Linked DNA regions of Homo sapiens. The protein of the gene in region 2 purifies or fractionates together with the protein of the main gene of each other region. This does not show direct contact. Each region holds a gene or a part of one and is shown on either strand. Other genes may lie near its edges.

What was found.
Region 1: the proteins of RNF34 (region 2) and UNC119B purify together in Homo sapiens (affinity purification with mass spectrometry; 2 studies listed by BioGRID and IntAct, with this or other methods). This does not show direct contact.
Region 3: the proteins of RNF34 (region 2) and TSR3 purify together in Homo sapiens (affinity purification with mass spectrometry; 2 studies listed by BioGRID and IntAct, with this or other methods). This does not show direct contact.

The regions. Positions count from the first base shown.
Region 1 is NC_000012.12:120,713,236-120,717,057, reverse strand, and holds part of UNC119B (protein unc-119 homolog B), read right to left. Parts: intron 3,785-3,822; coding exon 3,671-3,784; intron 431-3,670; coding exon 319-430; intron 189-318; coding exon 16-188; intron 1-15. UniProt on the Homo sapiens protein: Myristoyl-binding protein that acts as a cargo adapter: specifically binds the myristoyl moiety of a subset of N-terminally myristoylated proteins and is required for their localization.
Region 2 is NC_000012.12:121,417,118-121,420,717, reverse strand, and holds part of RNF34 (E3 ubiquitin-protein ligase RNF34), read right to left. Parts: intron 3,215-3,600; coding exon 2,807-3,214; intron 477-2,806; coding exon 384-476; intron 142-383; coding exon 1-141. UniProt on the Homo sapiens protein: E3 ubiquitin-protein ligase that regulates several biological processes through the ubiquitin-mediated proteasomal degradation of various target proteins.
Region 3 is NC_000016.10:1,349,728-1,353,549, forward strand, and holds the start of TSR3 (18S rRNA aminocarboxypropyltransferase), read right to left. Parts: upstream 2,152-3,822; 5' UTR 2,078-2,151; coding exon 1,966-2,077; intron 1,872-1,965; coding exon 1,652-1,871; intron 1,274-1,651; coding exon 1,080-1,273; intron 508-1,079; coding exon 331-507; intron 226-330; coding exon 162-225; intron 1-161. Other genes in the region: GNPTG (N-acetylglucosamine-1-phosphotransferase subunit gamma precursor), read left to right, coding at 2,239-2,290, 2,375-2,432, 2,512-2,579. UniProt on the Homo sapiens protein: Aminocarboxypropyltransferase that catalyzes the aminocarboxypropyl transfer on pseudouridine at position 1248 (Psi1248) in 18S rRNA.

The DNA.
Region 1 (3,822 bases), 700 kb from region 2:
TCAGGGGATACATACTGACATCCTCCGAAAGCTGGGGAAACTCATAGATATGTTCACAAGTGTTCCTACTGCTGGGGATGCAGAAGCCAAAATCAAAGTCAAAGTTTTTCAGCAAGTGTTCCCGGAAATAGTGCCGTTCGATCATCCGGAAGTTTGAAACAGGTTTGTCTCCCACTGTGAACTCCACCCTGGAAAATAAATCTCTGTAAGCCCGACTTTGCCTCCTCCCTCCTCTAAAGCCAACCCAAAACCCAACCGAAAACACTCTTCTCTGTGAACAAACAGAATGTTCTCCCCTCAGGTAGTAATGGTACTCACGTAGCCCCGACTGTCCGGAGGCGGAGAAATGCCGGTGTGAACTGATAGCGGACAAAACGTCCTGCGCTGATGTCCACGTCTCCACCTCCCTCCTCCTCATCCTCCTCCTGGTCTGAAAGAGCACACAGAATCTTCAGTGCACCATCTCGACATTCTCAATCCAAGAGTTCTATCACCAGTCCCAACAGCACAATGGCAACCAATCCCAGTAACCACACCAACAAGAAGAATGGCCAGTGTTTACTGCGCACTTGCTATATAGCAGGACACTTGCCATAGTCCAGACTCCTTACAACAACCCTTCGAGGTGTTACTGTCTCTATTTTACAGATCAGGAAGCTCAAGTTCAGAGAAGTCAGGTAACATGTCCAAAGTCCCTCAAACAGTAAGAGGAGGGAACAGGGATTTGAATCCAGGTCCATCTGACTCAAGGCCTGTTCTTCAACACTAAGCTATTAGCCTTTTTTAATAGTTTGAGAGCTTATGCCATATCCTAAGGGTGAAACCTGAAACACAAGCTGGGAACTGGGCCTCTGACATGGTCTATTCTATTCAGACTAGGTCTGCAGTTAACCAAGTTGAAGCGCTAGCACCAACCTAAAAGAATGAGGCTACAAAAGTTGACACTTATCAGAAAGTTATTTCAATGAATATAAAAATTTCTGACAGGCTGCAAAGATAAACCACTAAAAATAATTTTGTTATTTAAATAGAAGACATTGACCTACAGCCTTGGGATACTATAGTTCCTTGACTGATGTTTACTTCTAGGCCATACCAGGCCTAACCCTTTGACCACCTGGGAAAGGGTGAAGCAGATGTGGTGGCCTCTACAAGGTTAATGCTGGTCTCCGGTCTAGTCCATTCCTGAACCCAGGAGATGAAAGATTTGTAAAATGAATCAGAGGGCTGGGCACGGTGGCTCATGCCTGTAATCCCAGCACTTTTGGAGGCCGAGGTAGGCGGATCCCCTGAGGTCAGGAGTTCAAGACCAGCCTGACCAACATGGAGAAACCCTGTCTCTACTAAAAATACAAAATTAGCCCAGCGTGGTGGCGCATGCCTGTAATCCCAGCTACTCGGAAGGCTGAGGCAGGAGAATTGCTTGAACCCGGGAGGCGGAGGTTGTAGTGAGCCGAGATTGTGCCATTGCACTCCAGCCTGGGCAACAAGAGTGAAACTCCGTCTCAAAAAAAAAAAAAAAAAAAAAAAAAAAAAGAATCAGAGAACAAGCATTCTAATGTGAATAGGAGTTAGTACCCTCCAGTGTCCAGTGAGGATATTTTCTCCAGGTCTAAGCTGTACATGAGTACAACATAAGAGAAGACTTTTTCAGCATCAAACATCTCTGCTTTTGACAAGCCCAAGAGCGACTGGGCAACCAGGCTGAGTAGGGGTTCACCCCCAGAGACTCTAAAACCCTGGCTCCAACAATGTGACTCAGAGAGACAGCAAATCTTGGGGATTCAAATTCATCAGAACAAGTGCTGCAGAAAGGTAGTGATTCAGTGTGAGGATAATCTGTTGTTTATATTTATTGATTTATTTTGAGATAGGGTCTCACTCTGTCACCTTTGCTGGAGTGCAATGCAGTGATCACGGCTCACTGCAGCCTTGATCTCCCAGGCTCAAGCCATCCTTCCACCTCAGCCTCCTGAGTAGCTGGGACCACAGGCATGTGCCACCACGCCTGGCTAATTTTTTTGTATTTTTTGTACAGATGGGGTTTTGCCATGTTGCCCAGGCTGGTCTCAAACTCCTGGGGCTCAAGTGATCTGCCTGCCTCAGCCTCCCGAAGTGCTAGAATTACAGGTGTGATCCACCGCACCCAGCCTCAATGTGGGGAATATTACAAGTGAATCAAGATCCTTAAATGTAAAAACTAGAGAGACTGAAAACCAAGATACTTTACAGTATCTTCAGCTGACCTTCTTGAAACAGTTCCGTCTTATATTGAAATGACAACTCTTGAGTCTAATCCAAATCCACATACCTGTAGTAGGCCTGGAGTCCTTGCAATGTCCCAGGTACTGTGATATGTGGCTTAGAGATGAGAACACCACAGACCCAGGAAGCTAGCTGGTCTTGATCTGACCATCCCAATAAAAAACTACCCATAAGCAACCAGGCGCGGTGGCTCACGCTTGTAATCCCAGCACTTTGGGAGACCAAGGCAGGCGAATCAAAGGTCAGGCGTCTGACACCAGCCTGACCAACATGGTGAAATCCCGTCTCTATTAAAAATACAGAAATTAGCTAGGCATGGTGGTGGGCACCTGTAATCTCAGCTACTTGGGAGGCTGAGGCAGGAGAAGCTCTTGAACCCAGGAGGCAGAGGTTGCAGTGAGCCAAGATTGTGCCACTGCACGCCAGCCTGGGTGACAGACCAAGACTGTGTCTCAAAACAAACAACACAAAAAAAAAACCCACAAAACAACAACAACAAAATTACCCATGAACTTGAGCCTTTAGGTGCCTTGGTCAGTATGAGATTATGATAGCATAAATACCACCAGGTAGGGGTGAAATCGGGGCCTTATCAAATTTGCAGGCTCTAAGTAGCAAATCAGATGAGAAACACTGCAAAGTAAGTTTACAAACCACACTGATACTATGGGTATCTGTACCAGTGTTCTAACAAATGACTAACTCCAGGGGGCGCTAAACCTCCAGTGAGGTGCTCCAAAGGCTTCTGTGGTCCAGATCAGCCTGGCACTTTATCACAAGCACAGGAAGCGGCTATGGGAGGCTAATTTAAGGAACCCCAAGTAGTTGAGTTCCTGGGTCTGTTCTTCCAGAAAATGGTTGAGATTAAAATCCAAACTAGGTCTGGGAACTCCAAGGCAATATGTAAAAGAGAGCAAGAAGATGGCTCAAACTGCCTCATGTCTGGACCAGGATCCTCCCTATCACCCTCCAAGAGGGCACCAGGCTCAGGTGAGTTTTCCTCATTATAGTTTAATTTCAAGGATTCCTTTCCCAACTGGAGGCAACATGGTAAGATGAACCAGCACAGGGCCTTAGGAAAGAGCCGCCTGGGAATTGTAGGCCTCAGATCCTTCGCTGTAAAACAGAGATAACAGTAATTCCTCAAAGAGGTGTGAGGATTACATACACTGATGTGCACAAAGACGTGGAACACAGTGACCAGCACAGAATAGACATCCAACAAACATCAGCCTCTGAACGCAGCTTCAAACCACCATGCCTGGCAGACCAGGCCACGGGAAGAGGTCACAGAAGTGGGACACACTGGAGTCCAAGAAACAGGATGCAGTGGCACACAAAGATTTGAGTTTCAAAGACCTTTGGCTCAAAACTGTCTAGTGGTCACCACAACGTAGAGGCCTACCTGAAACGCAAGGTTTGGCAATCTCAAAAAGTACTGTCCCTGTCTCCAAATCTCGAATTTTGAAGCGGGTGAAATCAATACTGTAGATGTTGTCTTCGGGTTTACATAAATAATCTGAAAACAAGAGAGAGAAACCAACACTGTTAAATAAT
Region 2 (3,600 bases):
TTTTTCACAACAGCCAGAATAGTTGACAAAATTCCGAGCCAGAATTTCCTTCAGCTGGCGCACGCTCATTCCTTCCACATCATCAAGGCTTGACAAGTCAGACAGTGAAGCTCTCACTCTCTCCTTGGAGAGCCCGGGGTTCTGAAACCACAGAGCATCCATTAGCCCTGGTCCCATAAGTCCAGACCCTCCCCACTCTAAACTCATCACTGGCCCTGAATATTCTCCCAGCCATCTCAGCAGTCCTAGAAGTGTTTCAGTATACTGTCCTACATTCAAACCAGAAGAAACATCCTGTACTAATCTAGCGAATGTCCACAGGGCACTGTCCCTTCCTGTCAGGCTGACATGTCAGGGAAACCAAATTTTATAGGTGGCCTCACCCGATCCTCTGCGTTTTCTTCTTCATCATCATCATCCTCATCATCGTCGTCATCATCATCTTCTGTGTTTGCTGAAGTGATTTCACTTTGTACCTACACTTATACAACGTATCTGATTAGGTCAGGAATCAATCTGTATTTATCACTAGAGAAAACCTTGTCATTGATGCTCCCCATGATGACCAGAAAGCCAGCATAATGCACATCTTTGGATTCAGAATGCTGCTGACCCTTCCAAAAAGTTGGGCCCTACAAAATTGCATGAAGAACCTACCTTCCATAAAGTTAGCTCAAAACACAAATTCCTGTGTGTGTGTAAAGTTATAAAATCTAACCAGAGTATTAACTCTCTCAGGAAGGTCCCATAATGGAATGCCAAAGCCATTAAGGATATGGGACAGCACTGTGTCATTATCAAAGTACCTGCAAATGGCTAGTTTAACTGGAGCCTGTAAGATGCAGACAGAAAAAAGCTAAAGCTCTGATGGGTCAGCCCAAGCATCAGGGGCATCTGATTTGAAAGATCTCAGTCCTACCACAGCGTACTTAGACAATCTAATTCCAACGAAGGCTTTCTAGACTTCACTGATGGCTGAGGCTAATTCTAGTTTTTAAAATTTCTCAATCAGAACACTTTAGAAAACACAAATCTCTTCAGTTTGGGTTATGTACCTTCCTTCACATATTTTCTTTTGACTATATTTGACAATAGCTCTCCAATAAGCTAGGTCGGTTCCCAATTTCAAATATTCCACCCTGATTGCCAGGCACCATACTGTAGCATCCAACAATCCACATCACCCAAATGGTGGTGTATACCCAAAAGGGGTATGTAAGTCAGCTGTGCCTTATGTTTGCAGCATAAATATGCCAATTCTCATTTGGGAGAATAATAAAACTCCTGGCTTGGACTTATCTAATTTACGACTACAGTATGTGTTGCTTGACGACTAGGAGACGTTCTGAGTAATGTGTCCTTAGGCGATTTTGTCATTGTGCGAACATCACAGTGTACTTCCACAAACCTAGATGGCACAGCCTGCTACACACCTAGGCTATAGGGCATGGCCGGCTACGAAGCCGTACATCACGTTAGTGTACTGAATACTGTAGGCAGCTATAACACAGTAATAAGTATTTGTGTATCTAAACATATCTAAACACAAAAAAGGTACAATAAAAATATGGTATTATAATCTTACAGAACCACTGCCGTGTATGTGGTCTATCACTGACCAAAACATTATTAGAGGACACAGGACTATATCTAGAAGGCAATTAGACCAAATTTCCCTCTGCATTTATTCATTTACTAATTAAAAGACACTCTTGGCCAGGCGCGGTTGGCTCATGCCTGTAATCTTAGCACTTAGGCCAAGGCAGGTAGATAACCTGAGGTCAGGTATTCGAGACCAGCCTGACCAACATGGTGAAACCCCATCTTTACTAAAAATACAAAAATTAACTGGGGTGTAATCCTAGCTACTCGGAAGGCTGAGGCAGGAGAATTGCTTGAACCCAGCGGGGCAGAGGTTGCAGTGAACTAAGATCTCGCCACTTCACTCTAGCCTGGGCAACAGAGTGAGACTCTGCCTCCAAACAAAAAAAAAAGTCTTGCTATGTTGCCCAGGCTGGGGGTACAGTGGCTATTCACAGTTGCAATCATGGTACACCTGCAGCCTCGTACTCCTGAACTAAAGCAATCCTCTTGCCTCAGCCTGCCAAGTATCAGACTGCAGGCTCACACCACCGCATCCAGCTTTCCTCTACTTTTAATAACCCCCTTCTTCAGAGAAGAAAATTAAGCGTGAAAAAATTTGTTCAAAACATTTCTTTCAGCAGTTTAGAATCACTCACGTACAAGTAAATATTAATTACAAGCCTTTACATGTTATTCAATCAGGATGTCCAAGGACCTCACTGGGACAATATTATTAATTACAATTAGTAAATAACTACATTTTTTCACTAATTCAGATGGCTCTTTCATTAACTAAATTAGAACAATTTCACTGTAGCAAGACAAATGGGCATTAGGCTAACTTACACTACTGATTGTTTTCTGTGGTCACTGAAACACGTGCACTAACACATAACACTACAAATGTGTATGTGCTACTTTTTCACAGCCATTTCTTCAACAGTTAGTGTCTAACTGTGTAAGACAGAGAAATTAACTAAGGCCAAGAGACTGATGAGCTATTTTGGGACCCTTCAGACAGCAGACTTTGGAGCCACCTAGCACCTCAGCAGACACTATACATCAGGACAGCCTTTAAGTGCAGAGTTCAGCTGGGTGTGGAAGCTTCACTCCAGCACATGACTTGAAGTTTATCAGAAGTCATCAAGCACTAAAGGCCCCACCATATACGGCCAAGAATAAGCGTGCCGGGCCCTGGGTGTAATTAGTTACCCCCTCGTACCTGTGCCGGCACTCCAGATCTGGATGTTTGGTCTCCATCCATAAGCTCTCCCTGAAACGAAGACATAGTAGCAGAGGGGGCTGTATAGTTTGAAAAAAACGAACGTGTAAAAAAGCTAGAAGTCTGGGACCTTGAAGAATTCAGACTGCTTGTGTCCATGTCGTCCTCAGAGCCTAGTCCATGATGGCACAGTACTAGATCCACCAAGTCTTCTTTCTCACGACAAGTATCTATGGGTATATTTCTCAGAATGAGATACTGCCGCAGGTCCTTCACCTTCAGTCGCATTAACTGAGGGCGCTGAAATGCTGTCTCTTGTAATAAGTGACAAGTAGAACATCTACGGAGATTTTCTTGTAAGACTGAACAAACGGAGCAAAAATCCTTCTTGCAGTCACAGCAAACATGCTGAAGAAAGAAAAGCATTTGATGACAGCAAGATATAAACCATTATGAAAGCATGAGTTTTCTTTCTGCCTTCTACTAAAATTTAATTTTAGTTCTTAGTGAAGTCCCCAGTGGCACCAGACTATTTCCAGAGGTATTTTCATGTTTCAAAAGCCATGAAAATCAAAATATTCATTGCCAAGGCAGTCTGGATTCACAGAAGTTCTAATATAGGACTTTAAGAAAAACACACTCTTGTGTTAATGAATTAAAACCTTTCCACCCCTTGGTATAAACATGTAATTAACAAAACAGAGCTTGAACCACACAGAGCAGAAAGCAGAATCACACTTCCTGGTCTTTTCCTACATGAACAATTTCCTCCATTTAAAGAGCAGGAGACAAAA
Region 3 (3,822 bases), on a different chromosome or scaffold from region 2:
ACCCAAACCTCTCCAGTGGGACATGCACTGCAGGTTTTCTAGTCAGAAGACCATCGGGGTGTTGTTTACAACACCACCCCCAGGCAGCAGGAAGGGCTCAGGCCAGAGGTAGAAGAGAGCCCTGGGTCTGAGTGATCATGAAATTAAGCCCAAGGACCTACCGGGTGCTGGCCACAGGCCTGTTGGGGTTTCCAAACTCTCTCCCTGAATCCACATCGAAGGGATCTGAGCCGAGAGAGGAAAGTGGCCTCTAAGTGAGCTCAGAGCAGGACCAGGCCTCCCACCCCCCAGGCTTTGGAGGGCCTTGGTTCCCACCCCGCCAAGGCTCACCGATCTCCTCCTCCTGGGGGCTCTCCTTGGCATTGGCCAAGAACTCCTGCTCCGCCTGCAGCACCTCCTCCGGGCTGCCGCAGGCCGCGTACTTGTCCAGGAGCTGGCGGTTCAGGTCCAAGAAGCCCTTGCCCCATTTAAACTTCCGCAGCAAAATGACAGCAAGGTCTGGAAAGCCTGACGGTGTGAGAAACAGGAAACCCAAAGAAGTCGACGGTCCCCTCAAGTGCCTCCTGATCACCCTGCTGCCGGATGGCGGCGCTCTCCCAAGTAACCGCAGGGTCCCCAGCAAACATCAGCTCACAGTCCTGAGAACCCGTGCTGCCCCCAGCCTGCACCTCCCTTGCTACAGTCCACACCTCTGCAACCGACCAAGTCCCCCTCCTTTGCTGCGAAACAAACATTCCCACCAAGACTGCCCCACGCCTCATCAGGGCCTCTTTAGATCAGCAATTCAGTAAGGAGGACGTGGAGGATAAGGAGGATTCTCTGGGCAGTGGTGCCCTGATAATGAATGGCACCCCACACACCGGCCCTGATAGAACAGCGATCCCATTCTGCCTCTACTGCAACTCCACAGGCCGAAAACCTGAAGTGACAGTTGGGGCTGGAACCGTGGTCTGTCTGAACTGTTCCCCTGTCCGTCCCTTATGCTCCTCCTGGGGTCTGTCGGCAGGAAACATGATGCTGGGAGCATAGCAGGAACAGCAGGCCGCCGGGTCACACTGCTGTGGGGCCCCTGGACTCACCTACGATGCAGAAGGTGGCAGCAAACGCTTCCACGCAGGAAAGTCTGTAGGGCCGGCCATAGTTCACGGGGTTGGCGGCCACCAGGTAGGGCAACAGGCGCAAGTGGCTCCCTCGCATCTTCCCAAACGGTGTCTCGTCCAGCCTGGCCCAGGAGCAGTCGATGACGGCGACCCCAGACTGCGCCACCAGCTGTCTGCCAGGGACAGCATGGGATAAGTTCAGGAGCCAGCACTACCCAAGGTGGAGCATGCCCCGGAGAATGGCCTAGCTAAGGGATTCAGGGACATCATTCCGCCATCCCCAAACACCCTCAAACGGACTTCACGAGCAAGCTTTTGAGGCAGCTGCTTGGGGCACCTGGAGCATGTGTTTATTCACTCAACAAACGTTTATTACCCCAAAACCTCCTTTATCCCAGGCTCTGCGCTACGCAACGGAGGCAAACTAGACAGACGTTCCCTGCCCACGTGGGTGTGGATGTGGGTGCGACATACAAGTGCCACTAAACCATCCCTGAAGGGAACCACGCGCTGGAAATGAAGACGACCTCGGGCAGGCCTCCCGCGCCTACCTGTCTGCGGGGGACGCGTACTGCTTGCCCACGGGGCTCAGCACCAGACCGCCGAATCTGTGGCCCAGGCGCAGGCAGCGCACCAGCCCCAGGCGGGCCAGCTTGCGGCCCGTGCAGCGCCGGGGGTCGCAGTGGCCCAACTCCCACATGGCCAGCGTGCAGGGCAGCGCCGCCGGGCCCGGGCCGCCCTCGCCGTCAGCCGCCCCTGGCTCCACGGAAGCTGCACGAGAGAGAGAAGGGCACTCGGCCTCAGCGTGGGACCCCCGGGCAGGCCCTCAAACCCTGACCCGCTCTCCCCATCACGCCTCGCTCACCCTGCAGCGCGGCGCCGACCTCCTCGGCGAAGGCCTCCAGGGAGCGCGTCGGGAGGTGCCGAGGGCGGCCGCCTTCCGCCCCCGGCCCGCGCGCTGCCCTCCTGCGGCCCATGGCGCGGACCTGGGGTGCCGGGGACTCCCCACCCCACGGCCGCGCCCCTCGGCCTCCCAATGGGCTGTGCGGCTGCCAGCGCTTGCGCCGGACGCCACTTCCGGTCCCCGTGGTCACGTGACCGTCACTTCACGTGACCGCGCGGCGGCCGCTGCGGCGCGATGGCGGCGGGGCTGGCGCGGCTCCTGTTGCTCCTCGGGCTCTCGGCCGGCGGTGAGTGGCCCGGCCGTCCGCGTCCCCAGGCCCCGCGCGCGCTCTGCACCCCGGCCTCCCCGCTCACGGTCTCGCTCCCCGTAGGGCCCGCGCCGGCAGGTGCAGCGAAGATGAAGGTGGTGGAGGAGCCCAACGCGTTTGGGTGAGCAGCCTCGCGGGCTGGCGGCTCGAGCGGGGGACGGCCCGGGCCCGTTCCCCGCTGACCTTGCCGCTTCCCGTAGGGTGAACAACCCGTTCTTGCCTCAGGCCAGTCGCCTCCAGGCCAAGAGGGATCCTTCACCCGTGTCTGGTGAGTGAGGAGCGCTGTTGGCCGGCGCGGGGGTGGCCGCGGGGAGCAGCAACAGTGGAGGATGGATGAGTGACCCTGAGAGTTACGGCCCGGAGTCTAAAGCATTGGTTTGTCAGCCTTCTAAAATTAATGTGGAAGTACGAGAGAATATACCAGAACGTTCTTGTAGCGAATTAAATTATCTCCAGACTTAGTCCTTCCTTTCCTTTCCGAGAGGTAACTGCTGTTAATAGTCTGGTGACTTTGCAGACGCGTTTCTGTGCTTTTACGTGCGTGTCTATGCAACTGGAAAACGTATAGTTTTTGTAATCTAATCGCTTTTTTAAAAAATCATGCTGCGCGAGTATTTGGCTGATTTGTCGTTGTCACTCGCTGTATCTCTCGGGACGCTTCATGGTGATGATATAGGTCTTCGTTCTTTCTCTTGGTGCTCAGCACGCGATAGGATGGCACTGCACTCCCCGATTGTATTTAGGTTCTTGCCATTTTTTTGGCCATTAGAAATAGTTCTGTGGAGAACATGCTGTGTAGGTGCTTTGGTTTGCCCTCAGGTGAGCGGTTTCCCAGTGCAGGATTCCAGAAGTGGAATTGGTGGGTCATGAGTATATATATCATTTAAACGCTGAATGAGTATTAAATATAATAGACAAAAATCCAAGAATTTTTTTTTTTTTTTTTTTGAGACAAGAGTCTCGCTCTGTCGCCCAGGCTGGAGTGCAGTGGCACGATCTCGGCTCACTGCAACCTCCGCCTCCCAGGTTCAAGCGATCCTCATGCCTCAGCCTCCCGAGTAGCTGGGATCACAGGCATGCATCACCATCACGCCCAGCAAATTTTTGTATTTTTAGTAGAGATAGGGTTTATTTCACCGTATTGACCAGGCGGGTCTCGAACTCCTGACCTCAAGTGATCCGCCCATCTCGGCCTCCAAAAGTGCTGGGATTATAGGCGTGAGCCACCGCGCCCAGCTTTAGTAATTTTATTATCGAATACCTTTATGTGTTAGGGTCTGTGCTGGGGTTGCAGAAACGAACACAGATATACCAATGCTTGTCCTCATGGAGCTGACAGTCTAATGGGGAGGGATGGAGGAACAGGCACTGAGCCTGTAGAATTAGATAAAATACATAGAATGGCCAATGATGAAAAATGCCATGTAGATGTGTGAAGCAGAGGAGGGAGTGTGTGTATGTGTGTTAGAGTATTGTTTGGGGGATCGCTTTTTTTATTTTTTAGAGACGGG